3 linked regions of the Homo sapiens genome follow. The protein of the gene in region 2 interacts with the protein of the main gene of each other region in a biochemical or structural test. Each region holds a gene or a part of one and is shown on either strand. Other genes may lie near its edges.

The links.
Region 1: the proteins of APPL1 (region 2) and ADIPOR1 form a complex in vitro, tested with the Homo sapiens proteins (one study listed by BioGRID).
Region 3: the proteins of APPL1 (region 2) and RAB21 form a complex in vitro, tested with the Homo sapiens proteins (one study listed by BioGRID and IntAct).

What each region holds. Positions count from the first base shown.
Region 1 is NC_000001.11:202,941,252-202,948,363, forward strand, and holds part of ADIPOR1 (adiponectin receptor protein 1), read right to left. Parts: coding exon 7,053-7,112; intron 5,360-7,052; coding exon 5,188-5,359; intron 3,945-5,187; exon of another isoform or gene 3,919-3,944; coding exon 3,732-3,918; intron 2,695-3,731; coding exon 2,507-2,694; intron 968-2,506; coding exon 774-967; intron 451-773; coding exon 322-450; 3' UTR 1-321. UniProt on the Homo sapiens protein: Receptor for ADIPOQ, an essential hormone secreted by adipocytes that regulates glucose and lipid metabolism. Required for normal glucose and fat homeostasis and for maintaining a normal body weight.
Region 2 is NC_000003.12:57,258,656-57,265,767, forward strand, and holds part of APPL1 (DCC-interacting protein 13-alpha), read left to right. Parts: intron 1-372; coding exon 373-425; intron 426-1,189; coding exon 1,190-1,364; intron 1,365-1,461; coding exon 1,462-1,498; intron 1,499-1,972; coding exon 1,973-2,119; intron 2,120-7,112. UniProt on the Homo sapiens protein: Multifunctional adapter protein that binds to various membrane receptors, nuclear factors and signaling proteins to regulate many processes, such as cell proliferation, immune response, endosomal trafficking and cell metabolism.
Region 3 is NC_000012.12:71,764,809-71,771,920, reverse strand, and holds part of RAB21 (ras-related protein Rab-21), read right to left. Parts: intron 2,122-7,112; coding exon 2,062-2,121; intron 1,330-2,061; coding exon 1,222-1,329; coding exon of another isoform or gene 1,219-1,221; intron 1-1,218. UniProt on the Homo sapiens protein: The small GTPases Rab are key regulators of intracellular membrane trafficking, from the formation of transport vesicles to their fusion with membranes.

The sequences.
Region 1 (7,112 bases), on a different chromosome or scaffold from region 2:
CATAATTTTCCCAAAATGGTTGGAGGAGAGGGTAAAATCTCAACATGAGTTTCAAAGTACTGTCTCTGTGAGGGGCCGGTAGATGCCTTGCTGAGGAGGGGATGGCTAAGTTTGACCATGCCCCATCCCCAGCTAGGAGAATGGAAATGGAAAGTTTATTGCCCAGTGGGTGTGAAAGTGGGCTGAAGCTTGGTTGGTACTGAATTCTCTAAGAGGTTTCTTCTAGAAACAGACAACTCAGACTCTTCCTCTCACTTCAGCAAAGAAGTTATTTTTAAAAGCACTTGGGAAGTTCCTCCTCCACCCCGCAGGTGGGAAGGCTCAGAGAAGGGTGTCATCAGTACAGCCGCCTTCTAGGCCGTAACGGAATTCCTGAAGGTTGGAGACTCCATAGAAGTGGACAAAGGCTGCTGCCACCACCAGGACATGGAAAATCTGATGAGACTGGAACTGTAGGAATAAAAAGAAAAGAGCCTTTAGGATAATGCAAGGAGGAATAAGAAACAAGTAGGAGAAAGCATTTGCTTCTTCTAGTTTATCCTTAATTAAACAAATTTGTTAATAACATTAAAGTGGTATATTTAGAAAGTTTTAAAAACACAGTCCTTGTCAGAGATACACCAAAATGTTAATATTGATGATTTACCTTCAATGCACATATATGTACCTCCAAACACTATATGATCCCAGTCTCATACCACCTTTTCCTCAGCCCTTTAACTTTGGGCTGTTCACTCACCATCACAGGACCTGCTGGAAGATTCATTTCTTACCCATATGTCAAATTTTCCAGGAAAGAAGCGCTCAGGAATTCGAGCAGCATAAAGGCCAGCTCCAGTGATGTACATCACAGCCATGAGGAAGAACCAGCCCATCTGGCCCACTGTGGTGGCCTTGACAAAGCCCTCAGCGATAGTAAAGTGCATGGTGGGCACGACGCCACTCAAGCCAAGTCCCAGGAACACGCCTGAACAGAACAGACATAAGACTGTCAAACAAGGAAACAGCCACCGCATGGAAGGCACTGCTGTCTTACTCTGGAATTTCAATGTTTATGATAATTAGCTATTTTTGGATGAATAGTACATGTTTAGGAAACTTAGCTACAAGATGGATAACACTCAACAGATATTTCTTCTATGTCCTGAATGGGAAGAAGCTGTGTAAGTGCTTACTACCTTTTAAGCACCAAGAACAAAGATCTCATATTCTTCATTATCTGTTAAGGAATTTAGGTAAAAATGGTATGTCAAGACTCTCTGATGGCTAACTTGGGTACAGAACTTAGATGTCAAGGCTTCAGTTGCCTCCCAAGTCAGAGAAGCATAGGATAGGCTTCCTGTTAAGATCATAAAAGTCTTACATAACCAGAACTCTGACCTCCTGAGTAGACAGATATACCCAGATTAGCAGTTATCCTGTAGCTGCTGGGACACACAAGTAAGGCAAGAGCAAGGGAAGAATGGGTATGTGTCTCATCATTACACTACACATAACTGAAGGGCAGGGACCACCTCTCCATCTTTGTAAATACCTTTGTTTAAGCACAGTGCATGGCACGTGGCTGGTGCTTGATAAATATTTAATTATTATTATTTTTTTCTTTTCTTTCTTTCTTTCTTTTTTTTTTTTGAGATAGAGTCTTGCTTTGTTGCCCAGGCTGGAGTGCAGTGGCGTGATCTTGGCTCACTACAACCTCTGCCCCCGACCAGGTTCAAGTGATTCTCCCGCCTCAGCCTCTCAAGTAGCTGGAATTACAGGCACCTGCCACAACGCCGACTAATTTTTATATTTTAAATAAAAACAGGGTTTTACCATGTCGGCCAGGCTGGTCTCAAACTCCTGACTTCAAGTGATCCGCCTGCCTCGGCCCCCCAAAGTGCTGGGATTACAGGCGTGAGCCACTGCTCCCGGACAATATTTAATTATTTTAACTGAAGGTTAAAACATAGCAGATATTAATTGTAAAGGGACTAAAGACTAGTGGTAATTGGTGGTGTTGCTGCAAGTAATAAAAGCTTAAAATAAGAGTCCAGATGAGATGAGACAACACAAAGATGTTTATGCTTGTAGCTATTACTTTGTTACCTGTTTATGCTCAAGGTATTTTCATTCACCAAACCAGGTATTCCATTCCCTTAGTAAAATGCCTCTGAGTGTTTTAATTTTAATCCCTTGGTCTGAGCTTGGGACTCGGGTCACTAAAATTACTGTGCTTGCTACATTTTTAAACTGTCACAAACCAAGTATAAGAGTAGCTACATCTGTGCTTGCAGTTAATTGACCAGCTGGGTAATGATCTGTCCTATTGGCATTCTACTGAAATAGTATGACACTGGGGGTTGAGAACTGAGCTTTGAAATTGATGCTGTTTTGAAAGTTCTGAAACACAAATCAGGGTTTGGGTGGGGTTCTCAAGCTGCAAACCTTAAGGCTCAAATAGGTTTGAGCCTATCAGGCCTAAGGTCTAAATACCTCTGAGGTGTACGTACATCTTCCGACCTACCTGCTCTTGTCTGCCGGTGCTTAGGAGTGGCAAACCGGTCCCACTGCGCCACAATGATGGCAGAAATGCCCAGGACACAGACGATGGAGAGGTAGATGAGCCGTGGCTGTGGGGAGCAGTAGAAGGAATAATAGAGCCAGGGGACAAAGCTCCCCATAATTAGAAGAGCAATCCCTGAATAGTCCAGTCTAAAAAGAACCACAAAAATGAAACAAATCAGTGGGGGAAATGAATTTGTATGGCTCATTTAACTAGCTCTTTCTGTTCTCCACCTGCTCCCAGATTTAACCATTCCCTCAATCTATCCTGTATTGTAGACTCCCATACAATCTATCCTGTATTCTGGATTAAAATTCCACAAGGTCACTTCTATTTTACGATGGAAAAATCTCTAAGAATCCCCATTCAAAGAACTCTATCCCTTTCCCTTACTAGTGAACAGCCGTATCTCCCATAGTAGACACTTGAATTTAGAAATTCCATCACAATCCAGCTGGTTCCCAGCATCACACTCAGGAAAGGCTTTGAAAATTCTCCTATTCTGATAGAATGAGTTCTAAAAACAAAATTCTTAAATTGGGAGTAGTATTAAGGGATACTCTAGCTTTTTCTATCTTAGTTGACTTTTTAAATGAGGAAAATGTACCTTCTTACTGGTGTTGTTAGAAAAAACAAAATAATACACCACTGTCGCCACCAAAACCAACAATAACAACAAAAACAAGCAAACAAATAGAACCTCAGGCTCACGGCTGGGCAAGAGAGAAAGCACACGATGATGGACATCTGGAGCTTCCAGCAATGCATGGGCAGCAAAGATAAGCTTTACTTGACTGCTGGGTAGGAGCACCAGCAGAATGAAGCATAGACTATTTACCACACCCTACTTTGGCTTGGGCTAATAGTAAGTTACGCTTGTACAAGGTCTTGGAAAGCAGCCAGTGCACTGGCACTCTAAGCCTCACAAAAGATAGTGCTTTTCAGGTAGAAAATATATTCCACAATTGGTCTCTCCATCTGTTGAAGAGGATGCAGTAAGTCTGTTCATGAAGTGTTTAAGAGAAAAGCTTCATCACCCCACTATCGCCACAGAACAGAGAGCCTTTCCTCTGGCATATCAAGAAACCTTTAGGAGTGATATGAGCTCCTATCACCCAGTAAGCACTGGGATCTCAAGATGTGACAACAGTGCACAGTATTTTCCTATGGTGTTCTTTTAACTCACTTGGAAAAAGTCCGAGAGACTTTCTCTGAATGACAATAGACGGTGTGAAAGAGCCAGGAGAAGCTGAGGCAGAGCACTGCACCCAAAAAGAACATCCCAAAAACCACCTTCTCCTGTAGAGGGGCCATGAAGTACATATTTGGTCTGAGCATGGTCAAGATTCCCAAAAAGAGAAACAGCACGAAACCTGCAGGAGGGTAAAATAAAAAAAACCTGTAAGAAAAAAGGGAATGTGTACACTTTGATGGTTGATGTTTTTGAATCAGAGAGCTACAGGCAACATCACTAATCATCAGGGAAATACAAATTAAAAGCACAATGAAATACCACCTTACTTCTGCAAGAAAGGCCATTATTAAAAAGTCAAAAAACAACAGATGTTGGCATGGATATGGTAAAAGGGGAATGCTTATACACTCCTTGTGGGAATGTAAATTATAAACTAGTATAACCTCTATGGAAAAGGGTATAGAGATTCCTTAAAGAACTAAAAGTAGAGCTACTATTTGATCCACCAATCCCACTACCAGGTGTCTACCCAAAGGAAAAGCAGTCATATGAAAAAGACACATGCACATGTATGTTTATTGTAGCACAATTCACAACTCTAAAGATATGGAACCAACCTAAGTGTCCATTGACCAATGAGTGAATAAAGGAAATGTGGTGTATGTACACCATGGAATACTACTCAGCCATAAAAAGGAATGCAATAATGTCTTTTGCAGCAACCTGGATGAAGCTGAAGGCCACTATTCTAAGTGAAGTAACTTAGGAATGAAAAATCAAATACTGTATATGTTCTCACTTATAAGTGGGAGCTAAGCTATGAGTACGCAAAGGCATATAGAATGATATAATGGACTATGGAGACTTAGAAGCGGGAGGGGGAGATAGGGGTGTGAGACAGAAAAACTACATATTGAGTACAATGTACACTACTAAGGTGATGGGTGCATTAAAATCTCAGAATTCACCAGTATATAATTCATCCATGTAACCAAACCCCCCCCCACCCCTTTGTAACCCAAGAGCTATTGAAATAAAAAAAAAATCAGAAAGCTATGAGGTTTAGCTGTGTAATTGCAGTCCAATGTTTCAAAGAAAGTGGCACTGGTCACAGAAACCCAGACAAAAAAGACCATTTTTTGAAATGTTGGCATTTTACTTTTACAGTTGGAAATTACGAAGTACAAGGAATTGTCTCCACCTAGAACAGTTCTGCCAGGGATCACAAAAAAATATCTAGTCCCAATTTCTTTGGTTTCTAGGCCTTTTACTCTCAGTCTTAAAGATCAGTGATCAAGGGTCAACCAAGGTTATTAGCTTAAAGTCATTAGTAGTTTAAAGGTAGAATCCCAGCTGCCAATCGATCTGAACAACTTTGTTGGGCTCTATAATCCCTTCGCAGTTAGGGAGACAACAAATTCCACCTTTCCCCATCCAAATCACTCACCAAGCAGATGGGTCCAGATGTTGCCAGTTTCTGTATGAATGCGGAAGATGCTCTTGAAGCAAGCCCGAAAGGAGGGCATGGGAGGTCTATGACCATGTAGCAGATAGTCGTTGTCCTTTAGCCAGTCAGGGAGCACATCATATGGGATGACCCTCCAACGTCCCTCCCAGACCTAGAACATATACACTTTCTCTGGGTAGGGCACTAGATAGTACCTTCCCCAAGGACAAGCAGTGATGGAGAACTAGTCTAAGAAGATGTCAGTCAGGCTCTGAATGGTCCTAGGTAATAGTGGAGAACCAGCCTGGACTGGGGGATATCCAAGACATAGCATGAATGGGGCTAGCAGAGTCCTGACTCATATTTTGACCATTAAAAAAAAAAAAAAAATCCTGGCTGAGTGTAGCGGCTCATGCCTGTAATCTTAGCACTTTGGGAGGCTGAGGCAGGTGGATCACCTGAGGTCAGGAGTTCAAGACCTGCCTGACTAACATGGTGAAACCCTGTCTCTACTAAAAACACAAAAAATTGGCCGGGCATGGTGGCGGGCACCTGTAATCCCAGCTACTCAGGAGGCTGAGGCAGGAGAATGGTTTGAACCTGGCGGGCGGGGGTTGCAGTGAGCCGAGATTGCACCACTGCACTCCAGCCTGGGCGACCGAGCAAGACTCTGTATTCAAAAAAAACAAAAAAACAAAAACAAACAAACAAAAAATCTCTTTGTCTTTGTTTCATGTTAGTTTATCTGGAGAAGTTTTAGGTAAGTGTTTCTCAACCTTTTAAGAAAATATGGTCCAACCAGGCTGGGCGCAGTGGTTCACGCCTGTAATCCCAGCACTTTGGGAGGCTGAGGCGGGCGGATCACCTGAGGTTGGGAGTTCGAGACTAGCCTGACCAACATGGAGAAACCCCGTCTCTACTAAAAATACAAAAATAAGCCAGGCGTGGTGGCACATGCCTGTAATCCCAGCTACTCGGGAGGCTGAGGCAGGAGAAGTGCTTGAACCTGGCAGGCAGAGGTTGCAGTGAGCTGAGATCGTGCCACTGCAGCTGGGAGACAAGAGCAAAACTCTGTCTCAAAAAAATATATATATATATATGGTACAACCTCCTTTAGGCTACTTGAAATTTCAAAATTGATATACTGAATAAAAACAAAAAAATTATAAACGTTGTTTTAAAAAACGTACAGATCCCTCCTTTGCCCCTCTCCAGGAGATTCTATCTCATGTCTCATCCCTCCCCCAATTAGATTCTAAGTTCTTACCACATCTTTTTAGAGTAGGGGTTCTTAATCTAGGATCCATGCACTATGGACAGGATCCAGGGAATAGATGGAAAAAATTGTATTTCCATTTACCTCTAAGTAAATTGAGCATTTTCCTCAATTATAAGCATAAGCAACAAACCACAGTATTAGTAGAACTTGTGGCTTTGTCACCAATAGAAATCAGATACTCTCACACATTAGTTCTGCAGGTATCTCAAAATACTGTTTCTATTCATCATTACTTAGAAATTACAAATTTTAATAAAATACATTAGTGCTCATCATTCATGTATATTTAATGTGTTAACAAAGGCATTCATATTACTGTCATATTGAAATATTTTGATGACTTCCAAAGGCGCCCCTTGCATAGAAAAGAATCCGTTTTAAGAATATATTTTGAACAATGCCTCACAGAGTAGGCAGTAAAAATTTAGCCAGTCTTCACATTGATTTACCTCATCTTAACCAAAAAACAAATCCACTCCTTCCCAGGAATAAAAGCTCTTCGACCCAGTGCAAGCTTGCTGGCTGGGGACATCCCAGACAGGCCTGCTGCCCTTCCCCTTCCAGGACAGAAGCTCATAGGCCATACCTTGTACACAAACTCTTCCATCTTCTCCATGGCGTGGTGGGCTTGCAGGGGAAGTGTCAG
Region 2 (7,112 bases):
TTTTACAATTCCAGGACATTCTTGGCATTTTTCTCAAGCAACTAAGATTGCAGTTAAATAAGTGTTCCTCTGTGCTAGCTTATTTAAATTCAAGAACTTTTGCAACATGGTTTATTATGTTGATTTTTTGTTGTGTATGTCTAAACTTCCAATTCATCTGTGTCTTCTAAAGTGCACCAACATTGATCAGTTAGTGTGTGAGGGCAGAGGCCTTCATCATAGTAATTTAGTGATCAATAGTGTTTCTTAATAGGATGGGGCATTTTAGAGCTTTTTTTTTTTAAATGTTAACTGTGGTTTTAATAATTAGATTTCTTCTATGTGGCTCATGGTAACTGACCATGTGTTCATATTTTCTTCTAAACTTTTTAGGCGTACAAATCCATTTGGAGAATCTGGAGGAAGTACAAAATCTGAAACTGAAGGTAAGACAGATGTGCAGCATTCATATATTTTAGAACTGCTTCTCAGCAAACTGTGAATAATTTATTGTTTATATTTGCTCTGCTACTAAGCTCAGTTTTAATGCTATCTTTACTTCAGAATTTCCTCTACTTACTTATAGTACACTTGAAGCAACAGAACTTAATCTGACTTAAGATGTTGTGATTCATACAAAACGATAGACTCTCATACTTTTGACTTTATAGTCAAATTCAGTGCCTAAGATACCTTTCAAGCTTTTCCTAACAGCTGATGTTTCTCTTCTGGTACTGGAGCATAAATTTTGTTTTTCCGCCACTAACTATTTATTTGAATTCTAAACTTACAGAAATGCTGTAAGAACCACCAGTTGTTGTGTGTTTGTGTGTGTGTGTGTGTGTTGAGACAGGGCTCCCTATGTTGCCTAGGCTGGTCTCGAACTCCTGGGCTCAAGGGATCCTCCTGCCTTAGCCTCCCAAAGTGCTAGGATTACAGGTGTGAACCACCACGCCTGGCCTCAGAACTGCCAGTTGTTGAAGCATTACTTTTAGCTATTTGAATTTGAAACCCTAATTTTCCTATAACTTGGAATACTGTAGTTAGGAGTTATTTTGAAATGTCTCCCTTAGGCTGTTGAATTTTTCACTAGAAAACCTAAAAGGAGGCAGTGTATTTTATTCTTTTGGAAAAGAAATATGGCGAAAAAAATAAAATGTAAATTTATACAGTAAAAAAAAAATATGTAATACACCTTGTTCTATTATAGATTCTATTCTTCATCAGTTATTTATTGTCCGATTCCTTGGTTCAATGGAGGTGAAATCAGATGACCATCCAGATGTTGTTTATGAAACTATGCGCCAAATCTTAGCTGCCCGGGCCATCCATAACATCTTTCGTATGACAGAATCGCATTTATTAGTCACTTGTGACTGTTTAAAGTAAGTAAAACCCTCCCTTAAAAAACTGTAGAAAAAACATTTACATGATTTCAGCCTAATTAAAATTTGTTTTCCAATTTTTAAATTATTATTTTAGGTTAATTGATCCACAGACACAAGTTACAAGGCTCACGGTGAGTTCCACATGATTTAAGCTTTGTTTTAGGTCCCTTTGTATATATACACATCTTACAACTTGATAATAATCCTGATCCTGTATATTCAAGTGTGATAGTATCAGCTATGATTGGTCTTTGGCTGTTGTAGTTAAGTCTATGGCCATCTCCAAAAAGTTGTCATTGAACATTTTATGTAACTTAAAAGAATTAACACAATTCTTTTTGTAATTTTTTTAACACAGTTCTTTTTGACTTTGTAAAATGTGTTAATGACTAATAAAACAAATGTAATATTCAACAACCTTTTTCTGCTTGTTAATTCAAACCAAATATGACATTACTTGTTTCTGCATTACAAGTCTGTTAAAATAATTGGCTTTAATATATTAAAATATTTATATTTTTAGAACTTAGCATATGAGTTTGTCACAAGTGCTGCTGTAATGACTTGTAAGATCTCATGTTTGCTTCTGATGTTTTCTGTGGCAGTTTCCATTACCTTGTGTAGTTTTGTATGCTACACACCAGGAAAATAAGCGCCTTTTTGGATTTGTTCTTCGGACATCAAGCGGGAGAAGTGAAAGTAATCTGTCATCAGTCTGCTATATATTTGAGTCAAACAATGAGGGGGAAAAGGTACATGGCTTTTCAGAATATCTCTGTCATAACCACTTACTAATTGATTCTTACTAAGATTTAATAATAATTAAATTCTTACAAATTAAATTAGTTAGTAATTACTGATTGAATTCTTTACAATTTATACAAATTTATGAGGCACATGTGAATTTTGTTACATGTATAGAATGTACAGTAAGCAAGTCAGGGTATTTAGGGTGTCCATCATCCAAGTACAATACATTTTTGTGAAGTATAGTCACCCTACTCTGCTGTCAGATATTAAATATATTCTTTCTATCGTAATTTATGGTTGTACCCTTTAATCAGCTTTTCTTCATCCTCCCCCTTTCCTCATCACTCAGCCTTCCCAGTCTCTGTTGTCTGTCATTCCACACTCTGCCTCCACGTGATCAATTTTTTGGCTCCCACATACAAGTGAGAACATGTGATATTTGTCTTTTTGTGCCTGGCTTATTTCACGTAAGATAATGACTTCTAGTTCCATCCACGTTGTTGTGAATGACATGATTTCATTCTTTTTATGGCTGAATAGTACTCCATTGTGTATATGTACCACATTTTCTTTATTCATTTATCTGTTAATGAACATTTAGATTGACTTAATATCTTTGCTATTGTGAATAGTACTACAGTAAACATGTGAGTGCAGGTATCCTTTTGATACAGATTTCTTTAATTTTGGGTAGATACCCAGTAGTGGGATTGTTGGATCGAATGGTAGTTCTATTTTTAGTTTTTGTTGTTGTTGTTGTTTTTGAGACGGAGTTTCACTCTGTCGCCCAGGCTGGAATGCAGTGGTGCGATCTTGGCTCACTGCAACCTCTGCCTCCTGGGTTCACGCCATTCTCCTGCCTCAGCCTCCCGAGTAGCTGGGATTACAGGTGCCTGCCACCATGCCCGGCTAATTTTTTGTATTTTTAGTAGAGACGGGGTTTCACCGTGTTAGCCAGGATAGTCTTGATCTCCTGACCTCGTGATCTGCCTGCCTCAGCCTCCCAAAGTGCTGGGATTACAGGCGTGAGCCACCATACCCGGTCTATTTTTAGTTTTTTGAGAGATCTCCATACTGTTTTCCATAGTGGTTGTACTAGTTTATGTTCCCACCAACAGTGTATGAGTTCCCCTTTTTTCTGCATTTCACCAACATCTGCTATTTTTTGTCTTTTTAGTGATAGCCATTCTGACTAGGGTAAGAATGGCTCATTGTCATTTTGATTTGCATTTCTCTAATGATTAGTAATGTCGAGCATCTTTTCATATACCTGTTGGCTGTTTTTGTGTCCTTTAAGAAATGCATATTCATATCCTCTGCATACTTTTAAGTGGGATTATTTGATTTTTTCCCTGTTGAGTTCGTTGTATATTCTGGATATTAGTCCCCAGTTGGATGAACAGTTTGCAAATAATTTCTCCCATTCAACAGGTTGTCTGTTTACTCTGTTATTTCTTTGGCTATGCAGACACTTTTTAGTTTAAGTCCCATTTGTTTATTTTTATTGCCTATACTTTTGAGGTCTTAGGCATAAAATCTTTGCCGAGACCAATGTGCAGGAGAGTTTTCCCTTCATTTTCTTCTAGTGTTTTTTTTTTCTATGGAAAATAACCTTTTTTTTTTTTTTTTTTTTTTTTTGAGACAGACTCTTGCTCTGTTGCCCAGGCTGGAGTGCAGTGGCACAATCTTGGCTCACCGTAACCTCCACCTCCTGGATTAAAGTGATTTTCCTGCCTCAGCTCCCAAGTAGCTGGGACTACAGTTGTGTGCCACCATGCCCGGCTAATTTTTTTAGTAGAGACAGGATTTCACCATGTTGGCCAGGCTGGTCTTGAACTCCTGACCTCAAGTGATCCACCTGCCTTGGCCTCCCAAAGTGCTGGGATTACAGGCATGAGCTGCCACACCCAGCTGGAAAAAGAACCTTTAATAGAACAATTATTGAGAATATCGTACTAACAAAGTTTCTCAAGAGACTAATTAGAGCTAAAATGGTGAAAGTAGGATGATCTTTGTTTTTCGTTTTTTGTGGGTACAAGGGGTGTGTGTGTGTGTGTGTGTGTGTGTGTGTGTGTATGCATTTTTTTTTTTTTTTCCAGATGGAGTCTTGCTGTGTCACCTGGGCTGGAGTGCAATGGCGCGATCTTGGCTCATTGCAACCTCCGCCCCCTCGGGTTTAAGCGATTCTCCTGCCTCAGCCTCCTGAGTAGCTGGGTCTATAGGCATGCGCCACCACGCCCAGCTAATTTTGTATTTTTAGTAGAGACAGGGTTTCTCCATGTTGGTCAGGCTGGTCTCAAACTCTCGACCTCAGATGATCCGCCTGCCTCGGCCTCCCAAAGTGCTGGGATTACAGGTGTGAGCCACCTCGCCCAGCCAGGTGTATATATTTATGCAGTACATGAAATATTTTGCTACACTTATGCAATGCGTAATAACCACATCATGGAAAATGGAGTATTCCTTCCCTTAAGCATTTATCCTTTGTATTAGAAACAATCCAATTATACTCTTTTAGTTATTTTTAAATGTACAATTATTATTGACCGTAGTCCCCCGTTCTATCAAATACCAGGTTTTATTCATTCTATTTTTTTTTTTTAATCATTAACCATCCTCCCACCCCCCATCCCCACACTACCCTTCTCAGCCTCTGGTAACCACCCTTCTGTTCTCTGGCTCCATGAGTTCAATTGTTTTGATTTTTAGATCCCACAGATAAGTGAAAACATGCAATATTTGTCTTTCTGTGCCTGGCTTATTTTGCTTAACATAATGACCTCCATGTTCCATATATCTTATTGCAAATGACAGAATCTCATTCTTTTTTATGGCTGAATAGTACTCCATTGTATGTAAGTACCACATTTTCTTTATCCATTTTCTTTATCCATGTATCATCCATTCAAATGACAGAATCTCATTCTTTTTTTCTGGCTGAATAGTACTCCATTGTGTGTGTGTGTACATTTTCTTTATCCATTCATCTGTTGTTTTTTTTTTTTTTCCATTCATCTGTTGATGGACACTTAGGTGGCTTCCAAGTTTTAACTATTGTGAACCGAGCTGCAGCAAACATGGGAGTGCAGATGTCTCTTCAATATACTGATTTCCTTTTTTTAGGTATATACCCAGCAGTGGGATTGCTGGATCATATGGTAGCTCTATTTTTAGTTTTTTGAGGAACCTCCAGACTTTTCTCCATAGTGGTTATACTAATTTACATTCCCACCAACAGTGTACAAGGGTTCCCTTTTCTCCACATGCTTCCCAGCATTTGTTATTGCCTTTTTGCTATAAGCCATTTTAACTGGGGTGAGATGATACATTGTAGTTTTGATTTGCATTTCTCTGATGATCAGTGATGTTGAGGACCTTTTCATATGCCTGTTTGCCATTTGTATGTCTTCTTTTGAAAAATGTCTATTCAAATATTTTGCCCAGTTTTAAATCAGATTAAGGTTTTTCCTATAGAGTTGTTTGAGCTCTTTGTATATTCTGGTTATTAATCCCTTGTCAGATGAGTAGTTTACAAATATTTTCTCCCATTCTGTGGCTTGTTTCTTCACTTTGTTGATTGTTTCCTTTGCAGTGCAGAAACTTTTTAACTTGATGAGATCCCATTTGTCCATTTTTGCTTTAGTTGCCTGTGCTTGTGGGGTATTACTCAAGAAATTTTTGCCCAGACTGATGTCCTGGAGAGTTTCCCCAATATTTTCTTGTAGTAGTTTCATAGTTCAAGGTCTTAGATTTAAGGCTTTAATCCATTTTAATTATATTTAAAAAAATTTAAAAAAAAATAAAAAAAATAAAAAAAAATTTTTTTAAAAAATATTTTTGTATATGGTGAGAGAGAGGGGTCTAGTTTTATTCTTCTACATATGGATATCCAGTTTTCCCGGCACCATTTATTGAAGGGACTGTCTTTTCCCCAATGTATATTCTTGGTGCCTTTGTCAAAAATGAGTTCGCTGTAGTTGTGTGGATTTGTTTCTGGATTCTCTATTCTGTTGCACTGGTCTATGTGTCTTTTTTTTTTTTTTTTGCCAGTACCATGCTGTTTTGGTTACTATAGCTCTGTAGCATTGTAATTTGAAGTCAGGTAATGTGATTTCTCTAATTTTGTTATTTTTGCTCAGAATAACTTTGGCTATTCTGAATCTTTTATGATTCCATATACATTTTCAGATTGTTTTTTCTATTTCTGTGAAGAATGCCATTGGTTTTTTGATAGGGATTGCATTGAATCTATAGATTGCTTTGGGTAGTATGGACATTTTAACAATATTGATTCTTCCAATCCATGAACGTGGAATATGTTTCCATTTTTGGTGTCCTCTTCAATTTCTTTCATCAGTGTTTTATAGTTTTTTGTTTTTTTTGTTTGTTCTTTTGAGACAGAGTCTCATTCTATTGCCCAGGCTGGAGTGCAGTTGCATAATCTCGGCTCACTGCAATGTCTGCCTCCCAGGTTCAAGTAATTCTCATGCCTCAGCCTCCCAGGTACCTGGGATTACAGGTATGCGCCACCACCACCTGGCTAATTTTTGTATTTTTAGTAGAGATGAGGTTTCACCATATTGGCCAGGCTGGTCTCAAACTCCTGGCCTCAAGTGATCCACCTGTCTCGGCCTCCCAAAGTGCTGGGATTACAGGCCTGAGCCACTGCGCCCAGCCTGTAGTTTTCATTATAGAGATCTTTCACTTTGGTTAACTCCTGGGTATTTAATTTTATCTGTGGCTATTGTAAGTGAGATTACTTTATTTATTTCTTTTTCAGATTGTTCACTGTTGGCATATAGAAATGCTACTAATTGTTGTATGTTGATTTTGTATCCTGAAACTTTACTGAATTCATCAGTTCTAATAGTTTTTTGGTGGAGTCTAGGTTTTTCTAAATATAAGATCATCATATCATCTGCAAACAAGGATAGTTTGACTTCTTCCTTTACAATTTGGATGCCTTTTTTCCTCTCTTACCTGATTACTCATCTT
Region 3 (7,112 bases), on a different chromosome or scaffold from region 2:
CACTGCAACCTCTGCCTCCCCAGTTTAAGCAAGTCTCCTGCCTCAGCTTCCCAAGTAGCTAAGATTATAGGCATGTGCCACCAAACCCAGCTAATTTTTTTGTATTTTTAGTAGAGATGGGAGTTCACCATGTTGGCTGGGCTGGTCTCTAACTCCCGACCTCAAGTGACCCGCTGTCCTCGACCTCCCAAAGTGCTGGGATTACAGGCGTGAGCCACTGTGCCTGGCCTCAATCTTCTCTTAATAAAATACTTAAACTATGTCTTTTCATGCAAAACGCGAGAGGGAGATAACAAACAGCAGCACCAAAATAACTTTTAAAAATCATTAAATCTACAAGGTACCTATCGTTTCATTTTCTACTTTTGGATTAAGTTTTTCCATTTATCATTAATAACCCAAGGGCTAACTTGTATATCTGCTCTATCAGATTTAACTGGGAAAAAAAATAAAGAGAAAAAACAAAACAAACAAGGTAAGTAATTTTACCAAGAACAAGCCTGTAACTCAAGGCAAGAAAAGCTTCTTCCTTGGCATTATTCCCTGTAGTTACACATTGTTGACATATTCCAAGAAGAGCTTTAGGAGAAAAGGTCAAATAAGTAACCCATCTGATTGTGATGAAAATTCAGAGGTAATTAAATGGTAACTCATTTTTGGTCCCAAACAACTTTAAGAGTCATACGTATGTGGTGTGTTTTTGAAGGGAAGTAAACTAATGAGATAACTTTAAGACTGTCCTTTTAAAACTTTTATTATATTTGGCAAGGAGAAAGCTTAAATGTGATGTTGTTCCTCCTTTTTCCTCTTCACAATAAAGGAACCCGTCCAGCCACACCAAGTTTAAGAGCCCAATGCGTATGGAATTAAGGAAATATGTGTGATTTTTCCTTAAGAGGGAAAAACAAAAGCCCCCATATTTTTCTGAAGCTCAATTTCAAATATTTCCCTTCCCTAATATTTGAGAAAGCCATGTAATAAGGCATTAATTATTCTAACGTAAATTAATTCATATGAATCAAATATTTCATTAAACATATGAGTACACCACCATGTTGTAGGTGAAAAGAAAAATAAAATGTAAGTGGTCACCAGTTATGCACAAATTATATACTTTATTTTTAAAAAGAAAACTAATCACATTAGTGAATAAAGGTATATTAATGGAAACTTGAAAAATTACTATTGTTCTTCTAAGACATCTACCCATGAATAGAATACCTTCTGAAAAGAATCTTCATCTGTTATGTCATAAACTAAAATCGCTCCATTTGAATCTCTGTAGTAAATTGGACCCAATGCATGGAATCTCTCTTGACCTGCCGTATCCTAAAGAAAGCAACAAATGCTTATTAGATCAGAAGAAAAATACAAATCTGCGATTGCAACTATGGTGAACTTTTTGATTAATTGGAAAATATGGCATAAAGTCAAAGACAACCACAAAACCCTATTAACAGAAACAAAACAGCAAAACAGGCCACACACAAAATTTTTAAGTTATGACCAATATGTAATGTTTTAGTGATATACAAAAGTTACTTTTTCCCTCCCAACCTTCCTCCTCCTCAGCACTTCCCCACCCCCATTAAAATACCAGTTTCAGTTGCCAGAGGGTCAAAACAACCAACACAGTATTATAAGCCAGGAATAGGCTCTGCCCTAAGTTTAAGTTCCCACACTGGGAGAGACAGGGAAATGGCACGTGCATCAAGATCACCAGTCAAGAAGTATCTGCTGCATTATCCTCACCCACCAGCCATTCTCTTAGAAGGCTGGAATATGGAGACACAGGGTGGGGAAAAAAAGGCCAGGCAAGCTGTCCACCCACCCTGTCCTCTCTCTGAAGTGGAACCCCTCTGAGTTGACCCTTCTCCAACTGAAAAGTTATGACAGCAATATTCAAATATACAATTATATTCCAGATATAATTCTCAACCAGATTTTAAGATTCTTTTTAATTAAAAAAAAAAAAAAGTGTTGGCTAAGCTCCAATTAACTTTAAAAAAAAAGAAAAAAGGAAGAAGCCTCCACGCATAATAGTTGAAAAAGTTCACTTACCCATATGGCAAGGTTTACTCTTTTCCCACCAATATTTAACTTCTTTGTTAAGAATGATGCCTAAAAAGAGAAATAAACATTAAACAATGTTTCTTATAAAATAAGGTTCTTTATCCTAACAACTATAGATGAATGAATCATCTCAATGTAAAAGTTATCTGGGAGAAAAAGTAATCACCGAGTTTTAAATTAATGATCGAAATTGTTTCATTAAAGATAAGACATTATTTACATTTTTATCTAAAAAAAAATCTTGTTTTCTGAAAATAGGTTATACAAAACACACAGAAAATAAGTATTTTTTTCTTAATATTTTTCCTTATCTATGTGGAACAAAATTTTCCCTAGAGCATTTAATTTGATGCTACCTTATCACAGAAAGAAAGAGTCTAAGAGATTTCTAAGATAAAATAAATGTTTACTGGTGGTTTACTTAATGTACAAATATCAATATTATTCAAAATGATTCCACAGTTACTTCATAACTCAATTGTTTAACATATATTCAATAATTATCCTAAGTATTAATGTCAGAGAAATGAAGGGACACGGTTCTACCCTTTATACTCTACTAGAGAAATAAAAATAAAGAGAATTACGATTCCATGTGATAATTGCTAAAATGGAGGGTCTTGCCAAATACACTGTAAAGATAGTACTGAGAAAGGAAGTATAACAGTTGTCTGAATGAGTCAAAGAAGGCTTCAGAGAGAAGGTAATGATCTCCCCTTTAGGAGCAGTAGGGACTGTTCCTGATAGATGAGTGAAGCCACTGAAGCCTCAAACACATGACTCCATCCCACAGGGAACTCCAAGTGGGTATGGTCAATACCAGAGATGAAACTACACAGATGGACTTTACCTTGTGGGTCTCAACAAAACCTGTTCTAAGACACCAGACATGTATTTAGACACACACACACACACGTCAAGTATACTTTGGAAATACTATGTATTGATTTTTATACACCAACAATGCACATTAACACATTAGGATGCTGCCAAAAGGAAGGCTAGCTGACTGTATTTATACAAGCATTTCCCAAACTCATTTGAACTTTTTTTCCCTGATTTTCTTCTGTATAGCACTGAACCTTTTTTTCCTGGAAAAATACCAAATTCATCCTAAAGAACAACTGTTTGAAGAAACAGGACTACTGACAAGGGAGAATCACTGAATGGTTTCAAGCAATGGGGAAACAGATCTATATTTTAAGAGAATGACCCTGGGATAGGAAGGGAGGTTGGACTAGAAAAGATAGGTAGAAAGAACACTTACAAAATTGGAGAAAAATATAAAAAAGGAGATCTGAACTAAGACCATGAAGATAGGAAAGAAAGAAGAGTATCAAGAGTTACTGAAGACAAAATATATCCAGAATCCAGAGTCAGCTGACGTGTTTAAAAAAAAGGAATAGAGAGCTGAGTTCAGACCTGTATAGAGATAGTCACATTTAGGTGTTATTTATATAGAAGAAAGTGCAAAGAAGGTGAAACAGATAAAAGGTCAGGATGGTGAATTACTGAAGGAAAGAAACAATTGAGATTTCTTTTACCTCAATTTCAGGAAGGTCTTTTTGCTATGGGCACACCACAGAAAATTAGAACTAAGAAAAGGCCACTGGATGTAGTGATTAACCAAGGAGTCTACAGATAAATATAAATGGCAGAGCTGGGTTCAAACCCATGTATGTCTGCCTTCAAGGCCCAAGCTATCCTCAAGATATTTTGTAAATAAAATAAAAATTATACAGAAAAGAAGAAAAATTAAATGCCAAAACAGCAAAGTAACCTGAAAAATGAGAAGACCAAATACATGTTATGACAATAAATGTCTTCTCCCATTCATGCTAGCATAGGAGCTAAGAATATGAACTTTGGAGCAGAACCTGTGGATTTGAATCTCAGCTTTGCCACATACTAGCTGTGTAATTTATTTGAACTCAATCATTTTCATGGTTTCAATATCAATGCCACATGGAAAAAAAACAAAATCTGAATCCTATCCGAATATTTAATGGATAGGTCAATTTAAGTGCCTCTTTTTCAAACACATGTAAGAAAGACTGAACCGATCTTCTCCCCAAAATTGGATTTTCATTCTGACTTTAGTATTTTGATCACATTCGCCTTCTCATTGAAGTTTAGAAACTTGGAAATATCTTCTTAAGCCCTTGTCAGTCTATATGCCTCCAAAATCTACCAAGCCTTGTCTTCACATTTCCTCTGGGGTCTATGACCACCAGTCTCTTATTATATCGTAACATAAATACCTCTGGTTCACCTTACACCCCGCTCTGCATGCCATATTATCTTCCCAAAGCTTCCCTGGTTAAAACAAAAACAAAAACAAAACAAACAAAAAAAACCCCACAACAACAACTTACAACTCATCGAAGGGTTCCCTAACAGGTTATCATTTTTAATAAGTATGCTTGAACATCCCTGCTGACAGCTAATATCATAACCTTTTGGTCATGAGTGTTGTGGAGATTTCTCAGAAGAAGGGAGTGCATCAGAGTTGGTAAAGCTGCCTCATTTCTTTTCTACCATCCCCTCTGAAATTTCCCACCACTCTCCCACGGCAAATTTAAAGGACGGTATTAAGTCTCCATTAAGGAACTATGGATACACAAAAACACTTGTACGGAAAGGGTACACATGACAACACTGATTATATAGAAAAACAAAAACAATGAAATTATCTGTGTTCATTAATAGGTAAGTAGTTAAAAATTCACAAAAATAGCCATCCATGCAGTAAAAACACTACACAGTCATTTCTACTACTGCTGCTAATACTAGCTAACATTTATTAAATGTTTATTTTGTGCCAAGTACTGTGCTATGCACTTTTCACAAAATCATTCATAAGCTGCTTCTTTATAAAAGTTGGGGAGCCCACATTTACAATTAAAAGTCTCAAAGCCTTATCTTTATATCCAAAGACTTCCACAACGTGTCCACATCTATCTTCTTAGGACAGCTTCCAATATTTCTTTACTTATTCTCCAACTTATATGGCTTTTTTGCATCCTCTTCAATTCTTCTGTCCATAAAATTCCACTCTAATTTGAGCCTATTCTCTGTTCTCTATCTGAATTCCACCTATCCAAATATGGCTCTTTTTCCTTGAAATTTCATGTTCTCTTATACTCATGCACGCAATGCACACAAATTTTTCTAGCCTGAAGAATTTTAGGGAATCAACTCTGCATTTACTGCAGCTTATACTGTCTTATACTATAAATTATCTTTTCATGGGTATAAGTATTCTGTTAACTAGACTACATATTTTTATTTAACGTTTCTACAGCACTTACAATGAAATGGGCAGTGTTCTAAGAGCTTCTCAAATATTAATTCACTTAATTCTCAGGTGCCAATAACACCCTGTGAGTCAGAGATAATTGTTACCCATGTATTACAGATGTGGAAAATGAGGCATAAGGAGGGTAAATATCTTGCCCAAGGTCACACAGTAAGTGACACAGTGCCACTTGAAATCCCAGGCAGTTTGGCTCCAGATATTAATTATAACTACTATGCTACGATACTTCTCAGACTGAGATCTGAGCTCTCTAACACTTCCACTCTTGTGGAAGAAGTGGGTGGAAGTCATAGTACCCTGCCCATAATTGACAATCAAATACTGTTATTATAGATAAGCACATCTACAATATGCCCAGGTAAATCAATGCAGGTATAACTCAATTTAGTAGGAGATATGCTCCTAAGTTTCCTTCTTAATCAAATTATTTTAACTCATATATATGATGCACTAGTAAAGCATATTATCAAAGGATCCCTAGTAAATATTTTTTTCCTTCATAATGAAAAACTTAAGCCCTGCTCTATGGAAAGATTCTGTTTCGTAAATCATCTCATTTGATATAAATCCTAAGTTTTTAATATTTTATAGACATTTTCTTCAAGGGAGAACTCTTTTTAAAAAACTTTAGAAAACTTTTTTAAAAAATAAAATTATGAATATATTTAAGAAGAAAGCTGAAACATCAAGATAGCAACAAACAGGTATAAAAATAGGCACGTAGACCAATGGAACAATAGAGAACGCAGAAATAAAGCCAAATACTTACACTTACCTGATCTTCGACAAAGCATATAAAAACAGAAATTTGGGAAAAGATAGCCTATTTAACAAAAGGTGCTAGGAAAACTGGCAAGCCACATGTAGAAGAATGAAATTGGATCCTCATCTCTCACCTTATACAAAAATCAACTCAAGATGGATCAAAGACTTAAATCTAAGAACTGAAACCATAAAAATTCTAGGGGATAACATTGGAAAAACTCTTCTAGACATTGGCTTAGAGAAAGAATTCATGACTAACACCCCAAAAGCAAATGCAACAAAAACAAAAATGAATAAATGGTACCTAATTAAACTGAAACGCTTCTGCACAGCAAAATAAATACTCAGCAGAGTAAACAGACAACCCAGAGTGGAAGAAAATGTTCGTAAACTAAGCATCCAACAAAAGACTAATATCCAGAATCTACAAGGAACTCAAACATATCAGCAAGAAAAAAACAACCCCATCAAAAAGTGGGCAAAGGACATGAAAAGACAATTCTCAAAAGAAGATATACAAACAGCCAACAAACGTATGAAGAAATGCTCAACATGACTAATTATCAGGGAAATGCAAATTAAAATCACAATGACATACCCCTTACTCCTACAAGAATGACCATAATTAGTCAAAATAACAATAGATGTTGGTGTGGATGTGATGAAACGGGAACACTTTTACACTGCTGGTGGGAACGTAAACTAGAACAACCACTAAAGAAAACAGTATGGAGATTACTTACAGAACTAAAAGCATTATAGATCTATCATTTGATCCAGCAATCCCACTACTGAGTATTTACCCAAAGGAAAAGAAGTTGTCATATGAAAAAGACACATGCACACATGTTTACTGCAGCACAATTCACAACTGCAAAGATATGGAGCCAACCTGAGTGTCCATCAACCAACAAGTGAATAAAGAATATGCGGTATATATACGCCATAGAATACT